Linked DNA regions of Homo sapiens. The protein of the gene in region 7 purifies or fractionates together with the protein of the main gene of each other region. This does not show direct contact. Each region holds a gene or a part of one and is shown on either strand. Other genes may lie near its edges. The genes, in order: SMC4, MTMR1, SPIN1, SLC25A31, CDAN1, MYDGF and TRIM17.

The links.
Region 1: the proteins of TRIM17 (region 7) and SMC4 purify together in Homo sapiens (affinity purification with mass spectrometry, with the first as the bait; one large-scale study listed by BioGRID). This does not show direct contact.
Region 2: the proteins of TRIM17 (region 7) and MTMR1 purify together in Homo sapiens (affinity purification with mass spectrometry; one large-scale study listed by BioGRID and IntAct). This does not show direct contact.
Region 3: the proteins of TRIM17 (region 7) and SPIN1 purify together in Homo sapiens (affinity purification with mass spectrometry, with the first as the bait; one large-scale study listed by BioGRID). This does not show direct contact.
Region 4: the proteins of TRIM17 (region 7) and SLC25A31 purify together in Homo sapiens (affinity purification with mass spectrometry, with the first as the bait; one large-scale study listed by BioGRID). This does not show direct contact.
Region 5: the proteins of TRIM17 (region 7) and CDAN1 purify together in Homo sapiens (affinity purification with mass spectrometry, with the first as the bait; one large-scale study listed by BioGRID). This does not show direct contact.
Region 6: the proteins of TRIM17 (region 7) and MYDGF purify together in Homo sapiens (affinity purification with mass spectrometry, with the first as the bait; one large-scale study listed by BioGRID). This does not show direct contact.

Annotation. Positions count from the first base shown.
Region 1 is NC_000003.12:160,433,052-160,435,453, forward strand, and holds the end of SMC4 (structural maintenance of chromosomes protein 4), read left to right. Parts: coding exon 1-158; intron 159-605; coding exon 606-758; 3' UTR 759-1,902; downstream 1,903-2,402. UniProt on the Homo sapiens protein: Central component of the condensin complex, a complex required for conversion of interphase chromatin into mitotic-like condense chromosomes.
Region 2 is NC_000023.11:150,762,502-150,766,106, forward strand, and holds the end of MTMR1 (phosphatidylinositol-3-phosphate phosphatase MTMR1), read left to right. Parts: intron 1-63; coding exon 64-228; 3' UTR 229-2,607; downstream 2,608-3,605. UniProt on the Homo sapiens protein: Lipid phosphatase that specifically dephosphorylates the D-3 position of phosphatidylinositol 3-phosphate, generating phosphatidylinositol. Could also dephosphorylate phosphatidylinositol 3,5-bisphosphate to produce phosphatidylinositol 5-phosphate.
Region 3 is NC_000009.12:88,468,182-88,472,179, forward strand, and holds part of SPIN1 (spindlin-1), read left to right. Parts: intron 1-190; coding exon 191-424; intron 425-3,998. UniProt on the Homo sapiens protein: Chromatin reader that specifically recognizes and binds histone H3 both trimethylated at 'Lys-4' and 'Lys-9' (H3K4me3K9me3) and is involved in piRNA-mediated retrotransposon silencing during spermatogenesis.
Region 4 is NC_000004.12:127,761,140-127,765,137, forward strand, and holds part of SLC25A31 (ADP/ATP translocase 4), read left to right. Parts: intron 1-2,190; exon of another isoform or gene 2,191-2,399; intron 2,400-3,103; coding exon 3,104-3,221; intron 3,222-3,998. UniProt on the Homo sapiens protein: ADP:ATP antiporter that mediates import of ADP into the mitochondrial matrix for ATP synthesis, and export of ATP out to fuel the cell.
Region 5 is NC_000015.10:42,722,693-42,727,275, reverse strand, and holds the end of CDAN1 (codanin-1), read left to right. Parts: intron 1-858; coding exon 859-966; intron 967-1,115; coding exon 1,116-1,179; intron 1,180-1,605; coding exon 1,606-1,787; intron 1,788-2,024; coding exon 2,025-2,132; intron 2,133-2,659; coding exon 2,660-2,785; 3' UTR 2,786-3,732; downstream 3,733-4,583. UniProt on the Homo sapiens protein: May act as a negative regulator of ASF1 in chromatin assembly.
Region 6 is NC_000019.10:4,667,278-4,671,962, reverse strand, and holds the start of MYDGF (myeloid-derived growth factor precursor), read left to right. Parts: upstream 1-1,620; 5' UTR 1,621-1,628; coding exon 1,629-1,802; intron 1,803-3,317; coding exon 3,318-3,368; intron 3,369-4,685. UniProt on the Homo sapiens protein: Bone marrow-derived monocyte and paracrine-acting protein that promotes cardiac myocyte survival and adaptive angiogenesis for cardiac protection and/or repair after myocardial infarction (MI).
Region 7 is NC_000001.11:228,414,042-228,418,837, reverse strand, and holds the start of TRIM17 (E3 ubiquitin-protein ligase TRIM17), read left to right. Parts: upstream 1-1,976; 5' UTR 1,977-2,299; exon of another isoform or gene 2,300-3,724; 5' UTR 3,725-3,765; coding exon 3,766-4,194; intron 4,195-4,796. UniProt on the Homo sapiens protein: E3 ubiquitin ligase that plays important roles in the regulation of neuronal apoptosis, selective autophagy or cell proliferation.

The DNA.
Region 1 (2,402 bases), on a different chromosome or scaffold from region 7:
AAAAGATCTTCAACCTTTCGGGAGGAGAGAAAACACTTAGTTCATTGGCTTTAGTATTTGCTCTTCACCACTACAAGCCCACTCCCCTTTACTTCATGGATGAGATTGATGCAGCCCTTGATTTTAAAAATGTGTCCATTGTTGCATTTTATATATATGTAAGTAATCATTTTGGGATTTTCATTCCAGAAACTTTTAGGGGTATCCTAAACATTACACATGGAATTCTTTATTTCTTACAATTGAGCTTTTTCTTTATTGTCTAATAACTCCATCTCCATCTCCTCTGGTATCAGTGGAGACCAAATTATTTTTTATTTGAACCAAATATTTCCATTTTGGAGGAGTAAAATATAAATTAAAAATGCAAATTAGTAGCAGAATCACAGCTAGAATCCTAGGTCATCTTCCTAGATCTTTTCCACTAGAAGTCAAAATAACCAAATTCCTTTCACACTCAAATACTGTTTTATGAATTATTCCTGCCATCATTCCTTTACATGTTATCAATGTAATGTTTATTGTCCAAAAAATATTTGAGGTTACATGTTTGTGTGATTTACCTGTTATTACTTAATGTTTGACTTTTCTTTGTTTCTCTTTAGGAACAAACAAAAAATGCACAGTTCATAATAATTTCTCTTCGAAATAATATGTTTGAGATTTCGGATAGACTTATTGGAATTTACAAGACATACAACATAACAAAAAGTGTTGCTGTAAATCCAAAAGAAATTGCATCTAAGGGACTTTGTTGAACTTTATGCTGAAGATTCTTCAAGTTGATTCAGTGTATTACTGATTTTTTTCTATTTGTAAAGGATTATGAGTTGTATAAAATACATACTCCCTAAACTAGATCATGAAACTGGTTTCTGTTTTATGCAGTTGTCATTTGTAAAGTCTAATAAAATATTCTCTATAATTGCTTCTAGATTACAAAAATATGACAATCTTGTAAGTAGCAGACTATGGAGAAAAATGAGTTACCTGGAGGGTCAGGTAACTTGCCAAACTAAAAAGTATGTTAGTTGAGGCAAAGTCCTAAGCAAGGTTGTGCTATCAAGGCTCAGCATACCTTCGTGGGCCTTTGATTTACCAACACTGGAAATGCCTGCCAACTAATCTTGGATAGATTCTTTAAGGCATTCCACTTAGCTTGCCAGTTGAGACAATCACCACAGTTATTACCCAAATACTATGAACATATTTTTGTAAACCAGTCATTCTGAATTATAGTGATGAGAATTTAAATATATGCTTTTCTAGAATTTGATGTTTGACCATTTATGACTTAATTACCAGAGAGCCAGTAAATTAGGACAGTGTTTCAACAAGCCTAGGCTATCTCGTAAGTTGAAAAATATCCCACTATAGTTGCTTCATGAGTATGAAGTAAGATGGCCTCTGATTTACACTGGTTCAATTTACAAATTTTCAACTTTATGATAGGTTTATCCGGGTACTAAATGCATTTCAACTTGATAGTTTCAACTTATGATAGGTTTACCAGGATGTAGTCCCACTGTTGAGGAGCATCTATTTAGGGGTTAATTACTTTAGTAATAAGTGGAAAGTAAGATACCTTGAGTAATGTTTGCCTATAAAATTGTCAGCGTATTTTTACACTATTGGCTCAAGAATGTTATAATGCTAAGGGACATAAGTTGGCAACCACTTGGTTTTTGGAAGGACTTTCGGTATTGTATTAGAAGTCTGCCCTAGCTGTTAAATTTCTGGGTATTTATCCTAAGGAATTAATTAAAGAGTTAATTGTTCCTTTCTTCAGTGGGCCATTGTTTTAGATATTTAAAAAATCCAACAGTTTCTATCATAATGTAACTGTAAAAATGTAAACACATTATTAGCATGGACTTTTAAATAAAGATTTAAAGAAAGCAAGATCGGAAATTCAAGTACGGTAATTTGTTCTAAATCAAGAATATATAAGGGAAAAGTAAGTTTAAAGTGCTATAATGATAATCAAGTGTTTTCATTTGGTGCGAAAATAGAATTTAATACTTTTATTATATTTTAATAACCAATGCAGTAGAGCTCAGATTTTTTTTTTTTTTTTGAAAGTCTCACTGCATCACCCAGGGTGGAGTGCTGTGGCAAGATCTTGGCTCACTGCAACCCTGCCTCACGGGTTCAAGCGATTCAAGTGCCTCAGCCACATGAGTAGCTGGGACTACAGGTGCACACCACAGTGCCCAGCTAATTTTTGTGTTTTTGGTAGACAGGGTTTTGCCATGTTGGCCAAGCTGGTCTCAAACTCCTGGCCTCAAGTGATCTGCCTGCCTCAGCCTCCCAAAGTGCTGGACTATAGGCATGAGCCACTGCACCCAGCCTGCAGTACTAAGTTTCAAAGAATTAGAAGTACCCAGAACCCATGTGAAAAT
Region 2 (3,605 bases), on a different chromosome or scaffold from region 7:
CATGTGGAAACGCTGTGGTAGGAGGATGGCCTGATAATGCAGCTTTGTCTCTGCTCCCTCCAGATGCCCATTCACCAGAATCTCAAGGAGCTGCTGGCCGTCAGGGCGGAGCTGCAGAAGCGTGTGGAGGGCCTACAGCGGGAGGTGGCCACGCGCGCCGTCTCATCCTCATCTGAGCGGGGCTCCTCGCCCTCCCACTCCGCCACCTCCGTCCACACCTCGGTCTGATGGGCGAGGTCAGCCTGCTGCTCCACTGTCTCCCGGTGGCTCAGGAAAGGGACCTGGCGATCACTGTTATGGCTGTAGCTTGTGATCTTGTCTTTTAGGATTAGGCCCAGGGACCATTTGTGTGGCTAGGTGACAGCTCCCACTGTTGGCAACCGTTACCCTCCTGTCAGCGGTTTCACAGGGGAGCCGTCTGTCACGCCCACCCTGTGAAGCAACTTCTGGCATTCAGGCAGCTTGGGAGAAACTAAGTGAACGGAATGCAGTACTGAGGTTCAAGAAAGCTGTACGCCATTTCTTTCCAACTTAAATCCTTCAGTAACAACAAACACCACTCACTTCAAGATGCATTGCCAGCCCCGTGGCTTCCCTCAGCTCTTGGCCACAACTTGAAAACTGTCTTGAATGAAGTACTTGGGGAGAAGACAGGCCACTGCCCTCTGTTCCACAGTTTTCTTCATGCACGGGGTCCTCCTGTTAACAATTACTGTTGTGTACATATAAGGTATTTTTAGAGAAGAGAAACAGGCCTTTATTTTCCTATGTCCTTTTTTACGTTTAGAATAGTCACCCGAGGGGGGATCAGCTCAACTGTACTGTGGGAGAAATTCTTTTCCAACAAACCTCATGCTCGTTTTTCTGTGGTGCAATTTCAAGGGCAACGTGTTCTGTCCTCACCTCACTCTGGTACTCGCCTCTTGGGGCGGCTCAGCCCATTCATGGGGATGGCACCAAGCGGCCATGCTCAGTCTTCCAGCCCCGCTGAGGGTAAACCGAGGCCTCTGGCAGCTGTGCACAGGTGCTGGCCTCTGGCTCCTTCAAGGAGCACTGCCTGTCACTCGCTCCTGGGCTGTCTAGCCATGTCTCCCACCCCCACTTTACCGCAGCCAGCTGCTGGGATCAAAGCAAGTCTGTTCTTATGTTATTTGCCTGTATGAAATCATTTCTCATTTTATCACAATTCCTTCAACTCAGCTTACTCGCGTGGCTGCCTGTTCATATTTGAAAGCAGCCACCGTGCTGTGGCTTTGGTTTGGAAAAGCATAGCACGCACTTCCCTTGGTTTTCCCTTCCCAGAGCCGACCGCAGCTGGTCAGCCCTCTCTTCCCGCTCCTGAACCTTTACTTACTGACTTTGAGCTCTGTGACTCCGTCGGTTCTCGCAGGAATTAACTAACTTACCAATTGGTTCAATCCACTTGAGCGCCATAGCTCTGAGCTCCTCTGTGTGACATGCCACAGATGACTATTGCACACCTGGGTCCTGCCCCAGCAGGCCATGCCCCTCCCATGTGCCGTGCCTGTTGCTGCAGCTGCCCCCCCACCCCGCCACTGGCTGCAGGAATTCAGCCTTTAGAGGCAGAGGCAGCTGCAGCGGCCCCTGAGGTCAAACCCCAGTGTGACTGCATAGCAGTGTTAGCTGGTTGGTTTCAAACTACTGGATTCCAGGCAAAGGCCTACAGATTGACCTTATTATTTTTGAAAATATGTTAAGGGTTTTTTCGTAGAGAGAGAAAGAATGGATTTTTTTTTAACTGGGAACCTCCTGATTCTTACGGAAAATTATCCTTCTATAAGAAGATACCAGAGAGATTTATTCAAGGTAATTTGATAACCTAAAATCAATTCTCCATTTTTTATCATATGTGGGATTTGTTGCTAAGTCGTGTTCAACAATAGCTTTTATGTTCCTAACATATCTGAAAGCTTATTTATGAATGGATATACTGGATTATTGATATACTGATTTTTTTTTTAATGGGGACATTTGCCATTTTCTTCCCAGAAATATGTAATCCCCTGGCTGACTAGGACTGTTAAACATAGTGTGGACTGGATGATGCCTTCGACAAACCAGAGAAGCCAAGTTGGGGGGAGCTGGTGCCTGGAGTGGGCCCTGTGCACCTCACCTGGCGGAGGCTGGGGGGGGCTCTGTCAGCAGGACCCTAGAGGAGACTCTCATTCGATTTTAAAGAAGCACAACGGGTCATTTTCCTTTGTATGTTCCTAGCGCAGAACTGTTTCTAAAACAACTTGAAGTATAGTTTTGTTATCTAAGCAATTTTTGTTTTAAGTAAGTAAGTGTACTAGAATGCGAAGCCGTTATGGTTCAGGTTTTTAAAAACTGGTACAGTATTGTATTTGTCTCATCTGTTGCACTGTATTTCAATCATCTGTAATTAAAATGATCATATGTTTGCTCCCTGGTCTTTTTTAAGTAAGTAAGTAAGTATCTTAGTAGATTTTTCCTTTGAGGAAAATCGGTAATAAAATAACATGGATTGAATGTTTACTGTGCGTCAAGCACAGTTAATATATGATGATGTAAAGTAACTAACTTTATGTGATTTAATTCATTCAGTAAATTGTAAATGTATCATGAGTCTTAAGTAAGTAAGTAAGTAAGTAAGTAAGTATTTTGGCTGAAACAGGAAATACTGATTGATTGATTGATTGATTGATTGATGATTGTAAAGTCAGAAACGCCCTCAGCTCTAACCTTGAGAAAACGTGGACGACTTGGGGAAAGGTCTGGAGACACCTGAGAGGAGCCAGTCAGGGTGATGAGTCCTTCGCATGCAAGTGCAGTGCTCTCTAAGGCCTCAGACTGCCCCCACCCCAAAGGAAGGGGCGTTCACCTTTTCAGGGCCACGAAGGCCTGGATGAAATCACACCACCCCCTGTGCCCTCTGTGTGTTGTCGGTCTTCTTGTTAAGGGTGTGGGGTCCCTGTCCCTCTCCACACACGTTACTACTGAGTGAGCCAGAGAGCCCGGTATTCACTGGGCACAGAGGATGCCCAGGGGACTGCTTGCCAGCCAGCCTTCCCCAGCAGTGAGACCATAGCAGCTAGCCATGCAGAACTCCTGCACGAGACAGGCATATGGTGGTCTCGGGTTTGAGAGGACCTGATGCTATTATTTCACTAGAAGCCGAGGTTGGCAAAACAAAATGAAAAAACAAACAACCGACCTCCATGTTAAAACCCAGGGTCCACTGCATCTTGTTTGTTTTCATGCTGAAATGCCCTGAACTGAACTGTCGTCTTCTCAATTTGAAGCCAACATGCGAGCTGATGAGAAGGACATACTTCATCCCAAACGGGCCACTCTCCATGAGGCTGCAACAAGTGACGAGGTGCAGGGCTCCTTTCTCACCCAGCTTTCTGGTTGAAAAACAACTGCGCGTTAACTGGAACCTCCACTGGTTACCAGCCTGCTTGGAAGGCGGCAGAGCAGTCGACTTGGGATTTGTGAGCCTGGGACTTTTTGCTGCTTCCAGGCCCCGGACTGCGCAACCCATGTAGCCCGGGAGCGGCCCCGCAGCACTCTGCTCCTGCCTCTGCCCTCTCTAACCCCAGGACATTGGTCGCTCCACATCC
Region 3 (3,998 bases), on a different chromosome or scaffold from region 7:
ATCTCTGAGCTGGGGCCCAGTAGTTTGTCTTTGGTTTTTGTACTTTTTAAAGCTTTCCCAGATTCTGATGCTTGCTAATACGTTGCATGGACAAAATTTCAGGTGTAGCCTTCTTTAGTAAATTCAGTCTTCATAGTCGGTAATCAGCGAAACACTTTGTCAACTTTTTTTTTTTTTTTTTAATCCCCAGCGACATCTCGAATCAGCGATGCACACTTGGCAGACACAATGATTGGCAAAGCAGTGGAACATATGTTTGAGACAGAGGATGGTTCTAAAGATGAGTGGAGGGGAATGGTCTTAGCACGTGCACCTGTCATGAACACATGGTTTTACATTACCTATGAGAAAGACCCTGTCTTGTACATGTACCAACTCTTAGATGATTACAAAGAAGGCGACCTTCGCATTATGCCTGATTCCAGTAAGTATATATTGGCAACTTTTATATGTGATAATTAGAAGGGATTTGGACTTCAGTACAAGATATTTGATTGGCTCTTTTGCAGATACATTTTTATTTTTGGATATATGATTCTTTTAGTCATGCACAAACACAGCCTTTGAAATTTTTCATCCAGTTGTTATAAATGTTAGATAAGAAAATATTTGATAGTCAGTTCTGCTTGGCTTCTGTAATAAGATACAAGTTGTTTTATAATTATTAACACTACTACATATTACTTCTTGCTTTTATTTAAAAACATGATGGAATAGGGATCAGTAAAATACGTCCCCGTGTACCCTGCTCAGCTTTAACAGTTATCTCATCGCCTGTCTAGTTTTATCTGTTAGTCCCCCCAGTGCAATTATTTTGAATCTAATCCCAAGACATTGATTATTTCATCTGTAAATACTTGAACTTCAGAGCAGCGATCTTCAGCCTTTTTGTCACCGGGGACCAGTTTCATGGAAGACAGTTTTCTGTGGATTGGGGGTTGGGTGTGGATATGGTGGTTTTGGAGGCATTAGATTCCCATAAGGAACACACAACTTAGATTCTTCACATGCGTAGTTCACAATAAGGTTTGTGCTCCTGTGAGAATCTGATGCCTCTGCTGATCTGACAGGAGGCAGAGCTCAGACGGCAGTGCTCTCTTTGCCGCTGCTCACCTCCTGCTGTGCGGCGTGGCCCCAGGTGTCTGGGACTCCTGATTTAGAGAACATCAATTTCAGAAAACGATTGACTGCTAACTTTTCAGTAGCAAGTGGAGTACAGAGTCAGTGTTTAGACAGGTGATTTAGCTATTTCCACAACTAGTCTGTTCACACAGGTAAGGTAGAAGAGGATGTGACCTGGGCTAATTTCATTAGGCCTAGAAAACCTTTATTGTGGTTTTTGTTTTTGGACAGAGTCTTGCTCTGTTGCTCAGGCTGGGCTGGAGTGTAATGGTGTGGTCTTGGCTCACTGCAACCTCCGCCTCCCACGCTCAAGCGAGTCTTCTGCCCCAGCCTCCCAAGTGGCTGGGACTGCAGGCACCCACCGCCACACCTGGTTAATTTTTGTTTGTTTGTTTGTTTTGTTTTATATTTTAGAGATGGGGTTTCACCATGTTGGCCAAGGTGGTCTCAAACACTTGAGCTCAGGTAGTCCACCAGCCTTGGCCTCCCACAAGTGTTAGGATTACAGGTGTGAGCCATTACGACCATGTTAGTCCATATAGTTAGTCCATTTAAAATGTGCATTTCTGTACTTTTTAATATACGCACAGATATGTACAGTCCTCACCACAGTCGATTTTAGAACATTGTCATCACCTCAAAAGAAAACTTTGTATCTGTTAGCTGTCAGTCCTTTATTCTTCGAACCCCCTGGCCTTAAGCAACCAGTAATACTTGCTGTGTAAATTTCCCTGTTGTGGACATTCATATGAATGGACTATATGGTGTGAGGTCCTTTGTGCTAGCTTCTTTCCCTTAGCATATTTTGAGATTTCATTCACGCTGTAGCATATATCAGTACTTCATTCCTTTTAATGGCCAAATACGATTCCATTGTATGGATATACTACATTTTGATTAGCCATTCATCCAGTAAAGCACATCTGAGTTGTTTCCCCACCTCTTGGTTATTATGAATAATGCTGCTGTAAACATTTTTGTACAAGTTTCTGTGTGGACATGTTTTATTTCCTTTGGGTATATACCTAGGAGTGGAGTTGCTGGGTCATAATGGTAACTCTATGTTTAATCGTTTGGGGGAACTGCCAGGCTAATTTTAAAAACGGAAATACCACTTTACATTTCCAACAGCAGTGTATGAGACTTCTGATTTCTCCACATTCTCACCAACTGTTACTGTTACTTTGATTCTGGCCATCCTAGTGGATGTGAAGTGGTATCTCATTGTGGCTTTGATTTGCATTTCCCTGATGAGTAATGATGTTAAGCATCTTTCATATGCTTATTGGCCCCCCCCCTTTTTTTTTTTGAGACAGAGTCTTGCTCTGTCGCCCAGGCTGGAGTGCATTGGCGTGATCTCAGCTTACTGCAGCCTCCGCCTACTGGGTTCAAGCCATTCTCCTGCCTCAGCCTCCCCAGTAGCTGGGACTATAGGCGCGTGCCACCATGTCTTCTAATTTTTGTATTTTTAGTGGAGATGGGGTTTCACCATATTGGCCGGGCTCCTCTTGAACTCCTGACCTCAAAGGATCCACCTGCCTTGGCCTCCCAAAGGGCCGGGATTACAGACATGAGCCACCATGCCCGGCCTATTGGCCCTTTTAATATCATCTGTGGTGAAATGTCTATTCATATCCCCTGCCTATTTTTAAATTGAATTATCTGTCTTTCATTATTGCATTGTGACAATTTTTTAAATACAAGACCTTTATCAGATATATGTTGCAAATGTTTTCTCCTATTCCATGGGCTGTTTTTACTTTCTTGATGATGATCTTTGCACAAAAGTTTTAAACTCTGAAGTCCGAGTTATGTTTTCTCTTGCTGAGTATGCTTTTTGTGTCCTAAGAATCTTTTGCCAAATCTGAGGTCATAAAGATTTACCCTCGTTTTCTTATAAGAGTTTTATAATTATAGCTCTTACTTAGAGATCTTTGATGCATTTTCAAGTTAATTTTTGTTTGTGGTTCAAGTTAAGGGTCCAACTTCATTTTTTTTTGCTTGTGACTGCCTATCTAGTTGTCCAAGCACCATATTTTGAAAAGACTATTCTTTCCCCCATTGAATGGTTTTGGCATCCTTGTTGCGCGGTGGCTCACACCTGTAATCCCAGTACTTTGGGAGGCCAAGGCGGGTGGATCACGAGGTCAGGAGTTCGAGACCAGCCTGGGCAGCACGGGGAAACCCTGTCTCTACTAAAAATTAGCCAGGTGTGGTGGCAGGCACCTGTAATCCCAGCTACTCGGGAGGCTGAGGCAGGAGAATCGCTTGAACCTGGGAAGTGGATGTTGCAGTGAGCCAAGACCGCACCATTGCACTCCAGCCTGGGCAACAGAGCGAGACTCTGTCTCAAAAAAAAAAAAAAAAAAAAAAAAAGAAAATCAGTTGACCACAGATACGTGGGTGTGTTTCTGGACTCTCAATTCTGTTGCATTAGTTTGTATGTCTGTTGCTGTGCCAGTGCTGCATTGTCTTGATTACATTGCTTTGTGGTAAATTTTGAGATCAAGAAGTTTGAGTCCTGCTTTTTTTTTTCCTCCTTTTTTTGAGACAGTCGCACTCTGTTGCTCAGGCTGGAGTATAGTGGCACGATCTCGGCTCATTGCAACCTCCGCCTCCCAAGGAACTGGGATTACAGGCATACGCCACCACATTGGGCTAACTTTCGTATTTTTAGTAGAGATGGGGTTTTGCCATATTGGCCAGGCTGGTCTCAAACTCCTGGGGTGAAGTGATCTGCCCACCTCAGTCTTCCAAAGTGCTGGGATTACAGGTGTAAGCCACTGCACCCCGGCCCCTCCTTTCTTTTTCAGGAGTGTTTTGACTATTCTGGGTCCCTTGCAATTTCATATAAATTTTAGAATCAACTTGTCAGA
Region 4 (3,998 bases), on a different chromosome or scaffold from region 7:
GTCCTTCCTACCGTCACTACATAGATCGGCCATACCGTTTATATATGTTGTGCCTGCCCCTGTCGTTTTTTCATAGCTCCCACTTTCTGTATCAGAAGTGTCCTGGTTTGAATGATAAATTACATGATTATCCACGCCAAAAATCATTGATCTGCCTTCTTTCTCATCAAGAAAGAAAAAAAGATTAAGTAGAACTTAAGATCTACTTTATAAATCTTTATGCCACATATTTTGTTTGGTTGATGTGCTTGGTTTTCATAAGCAGAGATTAACTCAGATTACCTCAGGAAAAAGATGATTTATTGTAATGATACAGTGGCACTTGAATTTCAGCCACAGGCACCTCTACGGACCAAACTATACTCTCATCTTTCTCTCCCAAGTCACCTGTTCTTTCTCTCTAATTACCTGCTTTTAGTGTGTGTGTTTGCTCTGTTTTCTCATTATTGCCTACTTTTTTTACTTACTGATATTTTCTTATTCCTTTAAATTCAATATTTGTACCATAGTAATCCTTTTTGGCCTTTCTAAAGGTCAGAGGTTCTTAACCTGGGATCCGTGAATGCTTCCAGAATACCCCACACTCTAAAAATATATGTTCATACATGTGTAATTTTTCTTAGGAGAGGATCTATAGCTTTAAACAGTCTCCAAAAAGTCTAAGACATTAACTTTTCCTTTTCTGTCCTTATTGATAACTAGTATTGAATATTTAAAGTTCAGTTCCCAAGAAAGAGGCTCTGGCCCAGCTCATCTTTTTCTACCAGGTTACCAATCATCTACTACACTGTGGATTAACTACCCTTATGTCAGATGCAATCTCCTGATCTAATTATTTCTGTATGATGAGACATGCTGCTTATACAATAAAACTGATGAGTGTTACTTAAAAAGATCCATGGGAGTCTGGGAACAGTAAGTGGCATTACCAGTACACTTTATTAAACAAATACTTATTTAATACATATCTCTGGGCAAGACCTCCTGACTTGCTCTGTGAAATAAACAGAGGAATTAAGAATCTTGGCCTCAAACAAATGGAAACAACCCAAATGTTCATCAGCTGATGAGTAGATAATGTTCATAAAATAGAATATTATTTGGCAATAAAAAGGAATGAAGTATTAATATGTACTGCAACATGGATGAACCTTGAAAACATGCTAAATGAAGGAAACCAGTCAAAAAAGAGTGTGTCTTATGTGATTCCATTTATATGAAATGTCCAGGATAAGCAAATATATAGAGACAGAAAGTAGTTTAATGGTTGCCTAGGACTTAAGGAGGTAGGGAGGATGTGGAGTGACTTATAACAGGCCTGGGGTTTCTTTTTGGTGTGATGAAAATATTCTAAGCTGTGGTGATGGTTGCACAACTCTGTGAATATATTAACAATTGAATTGTACGCTTTACATAGGTGAATTTTATGATATGTGAATTATACTTAGTAAAGCTGTTAAGGAAAAATAATGCTGGCCTCAAGAAATTTATAGTCTGGGCCGGGCGCAGTGGCTCACACCTGTAATCCCAGCACTTTGGGAGGCCTAGGCAGGCGGATCACGAGGTCAGGAGATGGAAACCATCCTGGCTAACACAGTGAAACCCCATCTCTACTAAAAAAAAAATACAAGAAAATTATCTGGGCGTGGTGGCGGGCGCCTGTAGTCCCAGCTACTCAGGAGGCTGAGGCAGGAGAATGGCGTGAACCCAGGAGGCAGAGCTTGCAGTGAGCCAAGATCTCGCCACTGCACTCCAGCCTGGGCGACAGAGCGAGACTCTGTCTCAAAAAAAAAAAAAAGAAATTTATAGTCTGTAGGAGTATAAATGTACACAAATAATTATAAATTGAAAGTAGAAAATGGTTGTAAGTGATATTTAAAAAATAAGAGTCTGTGCAGTGAGTCGAGATCGCGCCACTGCACTCCAGCTTGGGTGACAGAGCTAGACTCCATCTCAGAAAAAAAAAGAGTCTATAACATGTTAATACATTTTATGTATTGGTCATGGGATTCAACTTTAATTCTCTGACAGAGATGAAGTATTTATGGGAAGAGGGTATGATCATATACAGTTTCAATAGATGGGTTGGAGATCAGATATTTCATGAAAGAAGTAGAACTTGAATTAGAGCATGAAGCAATAACTATTTTTTTGTTTAAAAAAGGAAGAGCATTCCAGGGCTAGAGAACATTGAGAATTGCAAAGCTGTCTGACACTTTATTGTTAGAAATAAAAACCAGAAAATAAAGCAAGAAATTGAGCTTGACTAGCATATTATTCACTTTAATGTATTAAGTGCTTGCAGTGGCCTCGTATCCTGGATTTTTCATAACAGCTCCAATTCAGATACTCCTTTCTTCTCGCATAAGCACTAGATGTTGAAAAGCATCTTGCTGAACCTGGGGAGGGCACATTTTAAATGTTGATCAAAAGTAATTATACTTCTTCAATAGCTCATGTGAACTAGTAGACCAGTGAGGCCTAACTTAAATGCCATACAACTACATTATGATTGATGTCTGCCAATCTCCATGTTGTCATTTGAACATAATTAAATACGTATTTTTGAGCTATTCAAATTTAATTCTATTTAAATTACAAAGTGAAGCTGGGGCATTGTGAAGTATTTTAGGTTGGTGCAAAAAGTAATTGCAGTTTTTTGCCATAATACTACTTACTTCACCCTTCACAGAAAAAGGGCACAACTAAAGCCTCCATATGTGCCTGACATTGTAATCATAGCAAGCACTATTATTAAGAATTATGTAGCTATTAAGGAAAAAAAAAAGTATACAGCGTAAAGAGATGATTATGCGACCTCTTTTGCTAATTTGGGCTGCTTTGCTGGAGAACATTAAAATATCCTGGAATTTCAGTATGTCAGCATCTAAACTGTGTCTTCCAGACTGCATGAAACAAAAGCTATATGGCTATAAAAATAAAATATTTTGGATAGCATGGTATGCATTATTATAGATGTTTACTTTATAAAAGTGGCTTATAAATCTGGTGTTTTAACATTTATAAAAATAAGAATTTACCAGGTATTTTAAACAGTTAGATTCTGTGGTTTAATAACCACTTTTAAATTAATATGTTTCAGTTCTGGAGGTGGTTTTTGGCAAACCTGGCTTCTGGTGGAGCTGCTGGGGCAACATCCTTATGTGTAGTATATCCTCTAGATTTTGCCCGAACCCGATTAGGTGTCGATATTGGAAAAGGTATGAGATTTTTAGAAATACTAACTTTTCCTTCTTTGCATTTTGAACCATCTGTTATTTATTGGCATTAATTGTGCTATAATAGTGTTACCAGATAAAGTCTACGAACTTTGTTCTCAACCAAATGGTGGAGTCATAGGGCCTAAAGTATATTACTTGCTTCTTTTCCCTTAAAAAAGGGAAGGAGGGAAAGCCTGTTGTAACAAAAAAAGTGAACATAAAAATTGCTTATAACTTAGTCCCATTTTTTTTTCCTAGAAAGCCCTTCCTAGATTTTTTTCCATGCACTTAGTCCTGTCTCAGCTGTGGCTCCCTTCTAGGTTAGATGCACAAATCTCATCCTAGGGAGTCCCTTTGCCTCTATCCTTACTTAAATATCACATCTTCCCTTTTTTGTTATTACACCCTTGTTTTTTGGTAGAGTATATTCTTTGGTAACTTTTTGAGAAAGAGTGAAAAAAAATAAATTGAGCTCTTACATATCTTAAAAAAAGTGTTTGTCTTACCCTCTCAAAAAGGGTAAGACATATATGAAAGTCTGAGTTTAAAATTATTTTCCTTCACAATTACGAAAATATTACCCTGACTTCTAGTTTCTAATGTTGCTCTTAAGATACCAATTTGCTTACTCCGGATCCTTTAGTATATGTTTTTTCTTTTTAGTTTCTTTCTATCCCTGATGATCTTATATTTCACAATAAAATATCTTTATGTGAGTCTTTTTTCAGTGTTTGAGTGATTGCAGCGGTCACACAACTGGCCCCGTTAAATCTGGAG
Region 5 (4,583 bases), on a different chromosome or scaffold from region 7:
AATTTCAGAAATGTTCTATGTGGGAGGTGATGCTTGTTTAGTTACAGGCAGTAAGAATAAACCATCAGTTCTCCTAACTTTATTTTAAAACTCAAAGACTCTCTAGAGCAGGAGTCAAGAAACAGCCCATGGACTGAAGCGAGCCAGCCCCTTGTTTTGTGAGTGAAGTTTTAGTGGAATGCAGCCATATTAATTTGTGTACGAGCTGCCTATGGCTGCTTTTGTGCAACTACTGAACAGCAGAGTTGCATAGTTGGGACACAGACTTTATGGCCTGCAAAGCCTAAAATATTTACTGTCTGGTTCTGGTCTAGGGTAATGATCTAGGAATAGAGATTGGAATAGGGACTATAAGGTACAATGACTAAAAAATGGAGATTATGTAGGAGGGAGAGGAAGAGGCTTAGTGGCCATTTGATACTGGTTGTCAATATGCAGAGGATTTCTGTATTGAAAGCTCAGCTCTCCAGAGAAGATGAACAGAGAGGCTTGAGAGACAGACGATACTAAGACGGTATCTGATAGGCCGGTTTCCTTACATGCTTCAAGAATAAGATGCCCTATGGGAGTTGGTTAGCTACAGTTTGGTCCCAAGTTGAGTGACGTTTCCCATGCTATGGCAGCCTACTGTCCCTCAGCTGACCTCCATCTGTTCCCTCTTTTGTTGTCCACATGGTTGCTTCCCCTGGCTGTATTATCCTGCCCAAGTCCCAGGTCTAGGGGCAACTTGGCTTTACTCACCATATCCCGGGGCCCATTCTTCTGCCTCTCTCCACTGGCTGATCCCTGTCCCAAGCCAAATTCTCTGTGGCATCCTGGCCCCCAGCGCAAGGTGATATCTCCCCCTGCTCTTCACAGGACGTGCTCTCCTTGGCCGTGGGGCCACGGGACCCTGACGAGGGAGTCTCCCCAGAGCATCTGGAACAGCTCCTAGGCCAGCTGGGCCAGACGCTGCGGTGCCGCCAGGTGAGCTGTGGCATCTGCCACCGGGGGGCTTTTTTCTGTGTCCTTGTGTGAGACCTGATAACCAGAGCCACACTGGCTCAGGGCCAGTTCTCGCAGCAGTAAGCATGGTGATACCTATGGTCTCTCTTTCCCCCCCACCCCAACCGCAGTTCCTGTGCCCACCTGCTGAGCAGCATCTGGCAAAGTGCTCTGTGGAGTTAGCTTCCCTCCTCGGTATGGTTGCTTTCCATCAAATCCCTCTCTTGCCTGATCCCCCAAATCTCAGGGTTGGGTACAAGCAAGATTAGAAACAGAGCCCTCTTCTGTCCCTTTTTTTTTTTTTTTTTTTTTTTTTGAGACGGAATCTTGTTCTGTTGCCCAGGCTGGAGTGCAGTGGCACGATCTTAGCTAACTGCAACCTCTGCCTCCCGGGTTCAAGCAATTCTGCCTCGGCCAAGTAGCTGGGACTACAGGTGCCTTCCACCACGCCTGGCTAATTTTGGTATTTTTAATAGAGATGGGGTTTCACTATGTTGGCCAGACTGGTCTCGAACCCCTGATCTGCCCACCTCAGCCTCCCGAAGTGTTGGGATTATAGGTGTGAGTCACCGCACCCGGCCTGCCCCCATCTTTTAAAGCTTGGCTTTCCTCTTTCCACAGTTGCAGATCAAATTCCTATCCTAGGGCCCCCGGCACAGTACAGGCTGGAGAGAGGGCAGGCTCGAAGGCTTCTGCACATGCTGCTTTCCTTGTGGAAGGAAGACTTTCAGGGGCCGGTTCCGCTGCAGCTGCTGCTGAGCCCAAGAAATGTGGGGCTTCTGGCAGACACAAGGCCAAGGGAGGTGAGTCAGACGGAACAAGAAGCCCTCTGCAGTCACACTCTGAACATCCACCACCCTTGCCCCAAACTATGAGCTGCTCTGCATCCTTTATTTCCCCTTCCTGTTCCACACAGAAATGGGCTCCATTTATCCATCTCAAGTCTCTTCCCAGCAGCTCTGCCCTTTGAGATCTCAATCTCTGTCATCAGGGTCACTCTGTCGTCCTCCTAGCAACCCTGACCTCGGTGTGTTTTGCAGTGGGACTTGCTGCTATTCTTGCTACGGGAGCTGGTGGAGAAGGGTCTGATGGGACGGATGGAGATAGAGGCCTGCCTGGGCAGCCTCCACCAGGCCCAGTGGCCAGGGGTAAGGAGTCTCCTGTCTTTTAGGTGGAGAGAGAACAGGTGTTACATATCCCATCTGTCCTGAAAGGAAGCAAGTGATGGGGCCAAACTAAGTGGATTTTTGTCAAGAGTCTTCAGGGCCACCCTGAAATTGTCCCGATTTGAGTAGTTATTATATGAGGGACTGTGTTAGTGGGAAGACGGACGAAAGGCAGGCAGTTAGTTGGAAAGCAGCACAGCCCATTATATGGGTTTTTAAAATTAGAATAACCTGGATTTTAACGGGAATAATAATTTCAAGATGAAGTAGATGCACTCAGTAGTACTCAAAAACTGGTCAAGCCTGTGCCTCCATCAGAGTTCGCTCCCTGCCATAACTTCAGCCTCCCAGAGTACTAACAAACAGACAAGGTTTCATGTCCATTTCAGTGTGGAGGGCAGTTGAGAAAAAATAATATAGCCAGCCAGGTTGTGGTCTTTAGTGACAAAGGATGAGCCATTGAGAATTATTACATGCTGCCTTTTCCCTCATCTTTCTATGTATTCCAGGACTTTGCTGAAGAATTAGCAACACTGTCTAATCTGTTTCTAGCCGAGCCCCACCTGCCAGAACCCCAGCTAAGAGCCTGTGAGTTGGTGCAGCCAAACCGGGGCACTGTGCTGGCCCAGAGCTAGGGCTGAGAAGTGGCCCTGCCTTGGGCATTGCACCAGAACCCTGGACCCCCGCCTCACGAGGAGGCCCAAGTGCCCAATGCAGACCCTCACTGGTTGGGGTGTAGCTGGGTCTACAGTCAGACTTCCTGCTCTAAGGGTGTCACTGCCTGGCATCCCACCACGCGAATCCTAGAGGAAGGAGAGTTGGCCTGATTTGGGATTATGGCAGAAAAGTCCAGAGATGCCAGTCCTGGAGTAGAAGAGGTGGTGTTTGTTTATCTCTTGGATACTAAATGAAATGAGGTGTGTGGGCTTGTCAACACAGAATTCAAGCCTCATTTGCTATCCCAGCATCTCTTAAAACTTTGTAGTCTTGGAATTCATGACAGAGGCAAATGACTCCTGCTTAACTTATGAAGAAAGTTAAAACATGAATCTTGGGAGTCTACATTTTCTTATCACCAGGAGCTGGACTGCCATCTCCTTATAAATGCCTAACACAGGCCGGGTCTGGTGGCTCATGCCTGTAATCCCAGCACTTTGAGAGGCCTGAGGTCGGCGGACTGCCTGAGGTCAGGAATTCAAGACCAGCCTGGCCAACATGGCAAAACCCCATCTCTACTAAAAATAAAAAAATTATTAGCTGGGCATGGTGGTGTGTGCCTGTAATCCCAGCTACTCAGGAGGATGAGGCAGGAGACCTGCTTGAACCTGGAGGTGGAGGTTGCAGTGAGCCGAGGTCGCACCACTGCACTCCAGTCTGGGTAACAGAGCGAGACTTTCTAGAAAAAGCCTAACAAACAGATAAGGTAGGACTCAACCAACTGAAACCTGACTTTCCCCCTGTACCTTCAGCCCCTGTGCAGGTAGTAACCTCTTGAGACCTCTCCCTGACCAGGGACCAAGCACAGGGCATTTAGAGCTTTTTAGAATAAACTGGTTTTCTTTAACAAGGGCTTGATGTCTAATCATTGTCACCTGTCTTCTCCCTTTAGAAGGCTGCAGTCTCGGGTGGGCTGTAGGTGGAGCGCTGTAATTGTGGCTTTGCTCTGTGCATTACAAGGTGAGCTACCTTGGCTCTTAGAAATGCCTGTATATTCCACTCTAGAGGGCTAGTCTCTGGTGGCAATATCTATTAATTTAATTTATCGCCAGTGGTACTGACTTCTCCTGTGTAACTCGCTTTATTTGTGGGAGAAAGGGTTAGGATAATGTAGTTTCCACACACAAGATATTCCCTACTGAACCACATGGTGGGGCAGTGTTCTTGTTAAGCTTGTTAAGGCTAAGGTGTTTGTTTGATTGATTTGGCTTGGAGTTTCTCAGAGCAAAAGCATTGCTTCTCGATTACAGCTGTATCAAGCTCTATAAATGAGCCACTGATTTTGACAGGTTCACACCTGTAATCCCAGTGCTTTGGGAAGCCGAGAGAGAGGACTACTTGAGTCCAGGAGTTAGAGGTTACAGTGAACTATGATTGTGCCACTGCACTCCAGCCTGAGCAAGAGTGAGACCCCCATCTCTTTGAGGGGAAAAAAAAAAAGCACTACTGTGATCATGTGCATTAATAACCAGGAGTTGGACTGATAATATAATCCTCAGGAGGACCTAAAGGGGTCCACTTGTGTGACCATGGTAGAGCCAGGAAATCCCATCAACCTAGAAAGTAAAAAATGGGAGTTTTCCTCAGTCACCACCTTGTGATCATACTTCTCCCAAACACCATGCCTTTCCCTTCTCCTCAGCTCAGCTACTCCTTTAACAAGTTTCTATATCTGAACCATTTTCCCCTGATCTCTTCATTTTCAAAGGCCTTTAT
Region 6 (4,685 bases), on a different chromosome or scaffold from region 7:
GTGAATATATGAATATATATATTCACATATGTGAATATATGAATATATATATTCACATATGTGAATATATGAATATATATATAGGAATGGGGTCTCACTATGTTGCCCAGAATGGTCTAGAACTCCTGAGGTCAAGCAATCCACCCACCTTGGCCTCCCGAAGGGTTGGAATTACAGGCATGAAGTATCACGCCCGGCCAATAAATTTCCTAACGCAAGCAGGTATCCCAATTTAGAACAGGCTGCCACTGCAGAAAGGCAACTGGCTTGGACTTCTGTCATTGGCAGAGGAGTCAGCCTCCACGGGGATCCTTCTCACCTCCCTGGGGCTCACCACCCTCCGTAGCTATGGAGTAGAGTGATTTAATTCCTCAAAGGGTGAATTATAACCCATCTTAGGAGTCATCTATGACGTTTTCTCTCTGGATTCTGTTTTTTGCCAGTTGGGAAGGACTAGAAACACCAGCTTAATTATTGACCCCCCAGGCCTGGCCACTGGTGTTTTCTTGAAATGTTAAGCCATTTGTAACCAAAGAATGACTTCCTTCTCTAGTTGAAAACCTGGGATCTAATGATAGCAATAGCTACAATATATAATTCTCAGTTCATTCGTCCCGGTGTGGGAACTTAATTCCCTCACTTACTCCTCCCAACAACTCCTTGAGGTAGGGATTATTTTCTTTTTAACTTTTTATTTTGAAATAATTTTTGCCTCCCAGAAAATCTGCAGAAACTGTAGGGTTTCCTAATACGCTTCATCCAACTCCCCCTAATGTGAACATCGTCTGTAACCCCTAGGACAAGCCAGGTTATCAAAGCCAGGAAGTGAACACCCACATAATCCTATTAACAAATACACAGACTGATCGAGCGTGATGACTCACACCTGTAATCCCAGCACTTTGGAAGGCCGAGGCAGGCGGATCACTTGGGGTCAGGAGCTCAAGACCAGCCTGGCCAACATGGTGAAAACCTGTCTCTACTAAAAATACAAAAATTAGCCAGGGGTGGTGGTGAACACCTGTAGTCCCAGCTACTCGGGAGGCTGAGGCAGGTGCATCACTTGAACCTGGGAGGCGGAGAGTGCAGTGAGCCGAGATCGCGCCACTGCCCTCCAGCCTGGGCAACAAGAGGGAAACAAAAGCAAGCATCCTGCTTCTCATCCTACTTTCCCTCTGCTAATTTTGAATATCGATGCACACACATCTTGGCTGCAACGATTATGAGAAGTTCGCCTAATGGTGACCTTCGATTTCCCTCACTCCCTGTACATCTCCTAACTGAAAGAGCTGCAGTCAGTCACACGGCTGGTGAGGGACCCTGAGACCCCAAAACGAACTCCATTACCACCTGAGGGACCCTCCAAGGATCGCCGGGCTACGCAGGGTCCCTAGGGTACGAGGCCGCCCCCTCGGCGGCCCCGCCCCCTCGGCGGCCCCGCCCCCTCGGCAAAAGTCCCGCCCCCTCGACAAAGTCCCGCCCCCAAGATGGTGGCCCCGGGCGGTGGACAGGGCGGGGCGTGCCGGGTCACGTGGACAGCCGACGCCGACGTGGCCTCCGGCGGACGCTCCACGTGTCCCTCGCCGCGCCCCGTCTACCCGCCCCTGCCCTGAGGACCCTAGTCCAACATGGCGGCGCCCAGCGGAGGGTGGAACGGCGTCGGCGCGAGCTTGTGGGCCGCGCTGCTCCTAGGGGCCGTGGCGCTGAGGCCGGCGGAGGCGGTGTCCGAGCCCACGACGGTGGCGTTTGACGTGCGGCCCGGCGGCGTCGTGCATTCCTTCTCCCATAACGTGGGCCCGGGGGTACGTGCCACCGCCGTCCCGGATATTTGAGTGCTGGCAGGCCCGGGGAGGGGGCGCGGAGCATTGGGGGCGGGGCCCGAGGAGGGGGCGCGGACCGCGGAGGTGGGTACTGAAGAAGGGGTGCGGATTGTTAGGGTCGGAGGCTGAGTGGGGGGCGCGGGACCGTGAGGCCGGGGTCATCACTGGGGCAGGACTGAACTCATAGGGAGCGGGGCCTTGTGGGCCCCGGCGGCGTTGAGGGGGCGTGATCACCTGTCACCTGTCGCCTGCCTGGAGTGTCCAGGCACCCCTGCCCTCCAGACGCAGAGGTGGGGAGGGGTCAGTGATGGGAGCGGCAGGAGGCTAAAGGGCATCTGCCCTCCTGGGCCTGAAGGAAATCAGTCGCTGCAGCTCCGAAGAGGGAGGAAGTGCTCCTTCCTTCCATTGCACAAGGTCCCCCCTCACCGAGGGTGTGAGGCCGGGCCCTCAGCCCTGTACTCAGCTTGTCGGCAAAGTCCTTTCCCCTCTCAGCCTCCCTTTCCCCGCCTGTAATAACAGTATCTTTACTGTTTTTTGACTATTTCTTTTTAGACTTGCGTGCAGTGGCGGGATCTCGGCTCACTGCATCCTTAGCCTTCTGGGTTCAAGCAATTCTTCTGCCTCAGCCTCCCCAGTACCTGGGATTACAGACGTGTGCCACCACACCCGGATAATTGTTGTTGTTGTTGTTTGAGATGGAGCCTCACTCTGTCGCCCAGGCTGGAGTGCAGTGGCGCGATCTTGGCTCACTGCAACCTCTGCCTCCCAGGTTCATGCCATTCTCCTGCCGCAGCCTCCCAAGTAGCTGGGACTACTAATCTTTGTATTTTTAGTACAGATGGGATTTCACCATGTTAGCCAGGCTGGTCTTGAACTCCTGACCGCAGGTGACCCGCCCACCTCGGCCTCCCAAAGTGATGGGATTACAGGCGTGAGCCACTGTGCCAGGCCAGTTTGTTGACTACTTCCTTATAGTTAGGTGTGATGCCAAGTCCTTTATATGTTAGGCCCAAGTTACAGATGAGAAAATGCTTCACATAAAAAAGAGAAACAGAGAGAAACTAGAGGCTCAGAAAAGTTTTCACTTGTCCAGGTCCCATGGCAAAACCCATCTCTACAAAAATACGAAAAATTAGCCAGGTGTGGTAGCAGGTGCCTGTAATCCCAAGTACTCAGGAGGCTGAGGCAGGAGAATCGTTTGAACCCGGGAGGCAGAAGTTGCAGTGAGCTGAGATCATCCCACTTCAGCCTGGGCGACAGAACAAGACTCTGCTTCAAAAAAAAAAAAAAAAATTAGTCGGGTGTGGTGGTTGCGTACCTATTGTCTCAGTTACTTGAGAGGCTGAGGCAAGAGGATTACTCAAACCTGGGAGTTCGAGGCTGCAGTGAGCTGTCATTGTGCCCCTGCACTCCAGCTTGGGTGACAGCAAGACCCCGTCTCTTAAACAAAATAAAAATTTCCTTCTACCAAACCTTTTTTTTCCTTCCATTCTCTAGGACAAATATACGTGTATGTTCACTTACGCCTCTCAAGGAGGGACCAATGAGGTGAGTTGTTCAAAATTCCCTCTAGCTTACTGTGACAGTATCCATTGTTGTAGGGAGATGTTCTGTAGCAGACAGCAGGGTTGGGTCTCACCTATATCACCTTACACTCATTGAATGACTCTTCCTAAACCAATAAAAAGGGAGAGTATTGGCATTAAACAGTGACGACAGATTCTGCTGTTATTATTCTACAGAGCAAGCAAATGTCTGGACAGAAGGAGGGAGGGGAGATGGGAGTCTGCCATCCCCATGAGCATCTGTTGGGATGTTGTATTTTATGTGCAGTGCAACAAGTTATCACAGCTTAGGGGCTTAAAACAGCACCCATTTATTATCTCATAGCTTTGTAGGTCAGAAGTCTGGGTCAGCTCAGTTGTGTGCTTCATAAAACCAAACTCAAGGTATTTTGGGAGGCTGAGGCGGGCAGATCACCTGAGGTCAAAGTTCGAGACCAGCCTGGCCAACATGGCAAAACCTCATCTCTACTAAAAATACAAAAATTAGCTGGGCATGGTGGCACATGCCTGTAGTCCCAGCTACTCAGGAGGCTGAGGCAGGAGAATCACTTGAACCCAGGAGACGGAGGTTGCAGTGAGCCAAGATTGTGCCACTGCACTCCAGCCTGGGCAACAGAGCGAGACTCTGTCTCAAAAAATAAATAATAAATAAATAAAGGTATCACAGGCAAGGCATGGTGGCTCATGCCCCATCTCTACAGAAAATAAAAAAATTAGCCCAGCGTGGTGGCGTGCACCTGTGGTTCCAGCTACTTGGGAGACTGAGGTGGGAGGATCGCTTGAGCCCAGGAGGTCAAGGCTGTAGTGAGCCGTGATTGTGCTACTGGGCAACAGAGCAAGACCCTGTCTCAAAAAAAAAAAAAGTCTCTGGGCTGGGAGAAGAATCCTCTCCTTCAAGCTCTTAGTTGGCAGAATTCAGTTACTTGTGGTTCAGGGACCAAGGTCCCGGTTTCCTTGCTGGCTGTTGTCTCCAGCTGGTGGCAGAAGAGCCAGTAAAGATGATTTGGGCCAGGCACAGTGGCTCATGCCTATAATCCCAGCACTTTGGGAGGCCAAGGCTGGCGAATCACCTGAAGTCAGGAGCTCCAGACCAGCCTGGCCAACATGGTGAAACCCCGTCTCTACTAAAACTACAAAAATTAGCCGGGCGAGCCAGGCGCACTGGCTCATGCCTGTAATCCCAGCACTTTGGGAGGCCGAGGCGGGTGGATCACAAGGTCAGGAGATCGAGACCATCCTGGCTAACACGGTGAAACCCCGTCTCTACTAAAAATACAAAAAATTAGCCGGGTGTTTTGGT
Region 7 (4,796 bases):
TCTGCTCACTGAGATAAATGTATATCTGATTGCCTCTTTTGGAAAGGCTAATCAGAAACTCAAAAGAATGCAAACATTTGTCTCTTATCTACCTATGACCTGGAAGCCCCCTCCCCACTTCCAGTTGTCCCGCCTTTCTGGATGGAACCAATGTTCATCTTACATATATTGATCGATGTCTCATGTCTCCCTAAAATGTATAAAACCAAGCTGTGCTCGGACCACCTTGGGCACATGGCTGTGTCATGGGCGTGTGTCCTTAACTTTGGCAAAATAAACTTCCTAATTGACTTAAACTAGCCTCAGATATTCTGGGTTCACAAGGGTAATTCACTTAATCGGCCAGTGTGCGCAGCCAGCCCGCACCTGACAGCACACAGACCCCTTTGTGTGTGCGAGTGATGAGAGACCACAGAAGAAACACTCTACCGAGTGAGCCCAGGGAAAGCCAGCCATCTATGCCTGTGGCCAGCTGTCTACACCCGCACACCCAGGAGATTGCAGAATGGTGCCTCTTAGCCTTCAAGGCCCTGTTTTCCTGCCTGTCTGCACCCCCTGTGTGGGCCAAGCCTTAGTTTCTTCATCTGTCCTCTCTCTCCAATCCCAGGACTCTGACTCAGGGCACGCAGGCCTCTGGCTCCTGTTCCTGAAAGCAGGAGATGAACCCTCCATGTGAAAGGTGCATCCCTCTACTGGAGGATGAAGCGTGATGACTAGGCGTGGGGACTCAAGGCCAGGAGAAATGGCCACCAGTCAGGACCTGGGCAGGGCTGGGGGCGGCATTTTGGCTGAAACCGTAAGAGACTTTTAAACCAGAGCAACTCCATCTTGTATAGAGGCTGGGTAAAATAATTCTGAGACCTGCTGGGCTGCATTCCCCAGAGGTTAGACATTCCAAGTCACAGGATGGGATAGGAGGTTGGCACAAGATACACGTCATAAAGACCTTGCTGATGAAACAGTATGTGGTGAAGAGGCCAGCAAAATCCCACCAAAACCTAGATGGCGACCAGAATAACCTCTGGTTATCATGACTGCTCATTATATGCTAATTTTAATACGTTAGCATGCTATGAGATACCCTCACCAGTGCCACAACAGTTTACAGATGCCAAGACAAGGTCACAGTTACCCTATATGGTCTAAGAAGGGGAGGAGCCCTCAGTTTCTGGAATTGCCCTTCCTTTTCTGGGAAACTCATGAATACCCCACCCCTTATTTAGCATATAATCAGTAAATAGCCATAAAAATGGGCAACCTGTAGCCCTGGGGGCTGGTCTGCCCATGGAGTAGCCACTCTTTATTCCTTTACTTTCTTAATAAACTTGCTTTCACTTTACTCTATGGATTTGCCCCGAATTCTTTCTTGCCCAAGATCCAAAACCCTCTCTTGGGGTCTGGATCAGGACCTGTTTCTGGTAACAAAACCACCTGGGGTGTCGGCAAGACCCACCCCGTCCCGCCTGGTTCTAGGGGACCTGACCTGCCAGGTGGTCCCTCCAAACTGGTCCGCCCACAGGATTGGGACGCCCCTCCCTGTACCCTCAGCCTGATGCTGACTGCCAACCATGTGGGCAGACCTGGCGGCTGACTGGCTGCTCCTGGGGACCCCCTTCATAGCTTCTCAACAGGCACTCGCTCCTGCTGCCTCGCCCCCACCCCAGCCCACACAAACTCCTCTCCATCCCCTACCCCGACCAACTTAGCCCCTCACCTAACCCTCCAGCCTGGGGCTCGCGTGCCCTCCCGCAGCCCCAACCCCAGGTTGAGAAGCCTCTTCCAATCCCACTCCCCCCACCCTGACGCTCGCCTGCCCGCCCCTAGCCCCACCAGCTGTCCCCATTCCACTCCCCACCCCCAAGTAACCCCCCAACTCCCCACCCTCCACACTCCCTTAACCTCCCCTAAAAGTCCCACCCCAGGCCAACAAGACTCCTCCCTTCGCTGGGCTGTGGACCACATCCTCCCCACCGCCCAGTCAGCACCCGCTGCGCCTGTCCCCGGCTCGTCCAGAGCCTTCCACCCCCTGCCGCCTTCCTTCCCCAAGCCACCCCCAACCTCTCCTAAGAGGCGCCGCCCCAGTCCCGGCCGCCGAACACTCCCTCGCCCAGCATTCCCCTCCCCCGCCGCCCCCCAGCCCCCGCTGACGCCACAAAGTCCCTAGGCCTCCCGACCCCAGGTCCCCACGCCCCGGGCCGGGCCGCAGCCTCCTGGGCTTCGTGGGGGCAGACCCAGCCTTTCCCGGCAGCGAGCGCTCGGCCAGGTGCACTAGGCGCTGTGCGGGCCCCCCTTCCCCGCGGTGAGTAGCCCCCACCCCGCCGCCTAGGCTACCCTCCTGTGGCGCCTGGGCCACGACCTAAGCCTAACCCGGTCCTCCTCGCCCTCCAACGCCCGGCCTTCCCGCCTCCGCCGGCCGCCGCGTCCCTGGAGGGGCTAGCGCGCTTCAACAAGGTAACTCTACCGGGACCCTAGCGGACCAGAGCGGGAAGGACAGCCATCCCGGCAGCCAGAGCCAGAGCCCCAGGCCCGCTGCCGCTGTCCCTGCCCGGCTTCGGTCAGGGTGGGCTGGGTGCCTCCGTTAGGGCTCTTGGGGGGAGTCGGAGGGCTGGCGCCGGGTGGTTGGCGTGCAGAAAGCTCCGAGAAACTGGACGTGGGACAGAGCCGGGGAAGTCTGAGACCCCTAGACGCCCTCGCTTTAGGGGATGGCAGAACGGAAGGGGAGAATCGTGCTTGCAGTGTAGACGCGATTTTCAACTCCTTCTGCAACTCGGTCCCCATAGCAACCCCGTGGCGTAGGCGAAAGTCTGTAGATCTCCACTGCGTGGGGTCGCGAGTGTTGAGATTGCAGGGGGCATCTATGTGCATGCTTGTGTGCCTGTGCGTGTGTGCGCGCGTGTACCTGTGTGTACATGCATGTATGTTTACCGATATGTGCATCTGTGCCTGTGTGTGCTGTGTTTGTGGATCAGTGTTTCTGTGCGTACATGTTTGTATTTGTGTGGTGTGTATGCGTGGGTATGCGTGTGTGCACATGCACGTTTGTATACATACATGGGTATGTGTATGGGTGTTCGTCTGTGCGTACATGCACACGCGTGTTTTTTCTGAACCCCACCTCACTACCGAATGGAAGAGAGCTTTTTTCCTCTGATAGCCCATCCCTTCTTCCTTTGGTGTACGGGGTTTTGTTAAAGAAAAAATTCTGACATTTGAAAGGCTCTTTAGTCAGGCTACTTGCAATGGGAGAGTTGCGCCAGCAAAGACAGCTGGGGATGTATGGGGGAGTTGGAGTGGGGATCTGGGTGGGGTCAGTGGATGGAAAGTGATTAAGGGAAGGCTCCAAGGGTAGGGGCTTCTCCCTAAGCTGACCTAGCAGGCTTCTCCAGAAAGGCAGGTTGAAGGCCTAGCCGGCAACGGTCTGTCGGGGAGGAGGAGCTGATGAGATGTGGAGCTGGGGGTAGCCAGCAGCAGGCGGAAGTGGACGGGTAGGGTCCAGGCCCAGTGGAGAGGAGAGGCGGAGGGGCCTGCAGAGCATTGGTCAGGGAGGGTCTGTGTAGTTTCTGGGGAGGCATCTGTGTCTGTTGTTGACAAGGCTAAAAATGATGACTCTGGACTCTCTAACTGGACTGCAGTCCTAGCCCTCCTCTGTAAAGGGAGGCTGTACAGGACGGTTGCACACTGCCGGCGCCCAGATCATCGGGCTGCTCCCTCCAACTCTCTCCAGAGTCCCTCAAGCGGGAACCTGCCTCGTGTCTCCCAGGAGCCATGGAGGCTGTGGAACTCGCCAGAAAACTGCAGGAGGAAGCTACGTGCTCCATCTGTCTGGATTACTTCACAGACCCTGTGATGACCACCTGTGGCCACAACTTCTGCCGAGCCTGCATCCAGCTGAGCTGGGAAAAGGCGAGGGGCAAGAAGGGGAGGCGGAAGCGGAAGGGCTCCTTCCCCTGCCCCGAGTGCAGAGAGATGTCCCCGCAGAGGAACCTGCTGCCCAACCGGCTGCTGACCAAGGTGGCCGAGATGGCGCAGCAGCATCCTGGTCTGCAGAAGCAAGACCTGTGCCAGGAGCACCACGAGCCCCTCAAGCTTTTCTGCCAGAAGGACCAGAGCCCCATCTGTGTGGTGTGCAGGGAGTCCCGGGAGCACCGGCTGCACAGGGTGCTGCCCGCCGAGGAGGCAGTGCAGGGGTACAAGGTAGGCCACATCGGGGCCCAGGTCAAGGGGCCGGGGAGGAGGCATCCAGGGGGACAAGGTGACCCAGATCATGGGGGAGGGAGGAGGTGTCCAGGGACAAAGTGGCCCGAGTCAGGGGCTGGGGAGGAGGCATCCAGGGGACAAGGTGGCCTGTGGCTGGGTAGGGGTGTCCCTGGGGACAATGTGGGCCTACACTGTATGATGCAGGCATTGCAAAATCTTACCTCTCCTCTCAGAGTATTTTGGGTGGCTCTGAGAACCAAACTGATTTGAGACAGATAAGCAGAAGCAAAGCACTGAAATTCATTCCCTGTAAGCTTTCCATGACCCAGGAGTCGCTCCCAAGGAGCCAGAGGCCCATGGAAGCATGTTAGAGCCAAACATGTACCTGAGGAGGATGAGGGTTAGTTTAGCAGGGTCCCTTTGCACAGATTTCTCTGGTTTCGGCTTTCCCGCCCTTGGTAAGAACATGGCTTTCCTCCTGGCCTAGGGCAGTCCTCTCTGGCATGGTGGCTGTGCCTTCTGCTCTTAGGAAGGCCGAGGGTCACAGCAATTCTTACACCTGCCCTTTTTTAAGTGCCTTCAGCTCAAAATAATCCAAG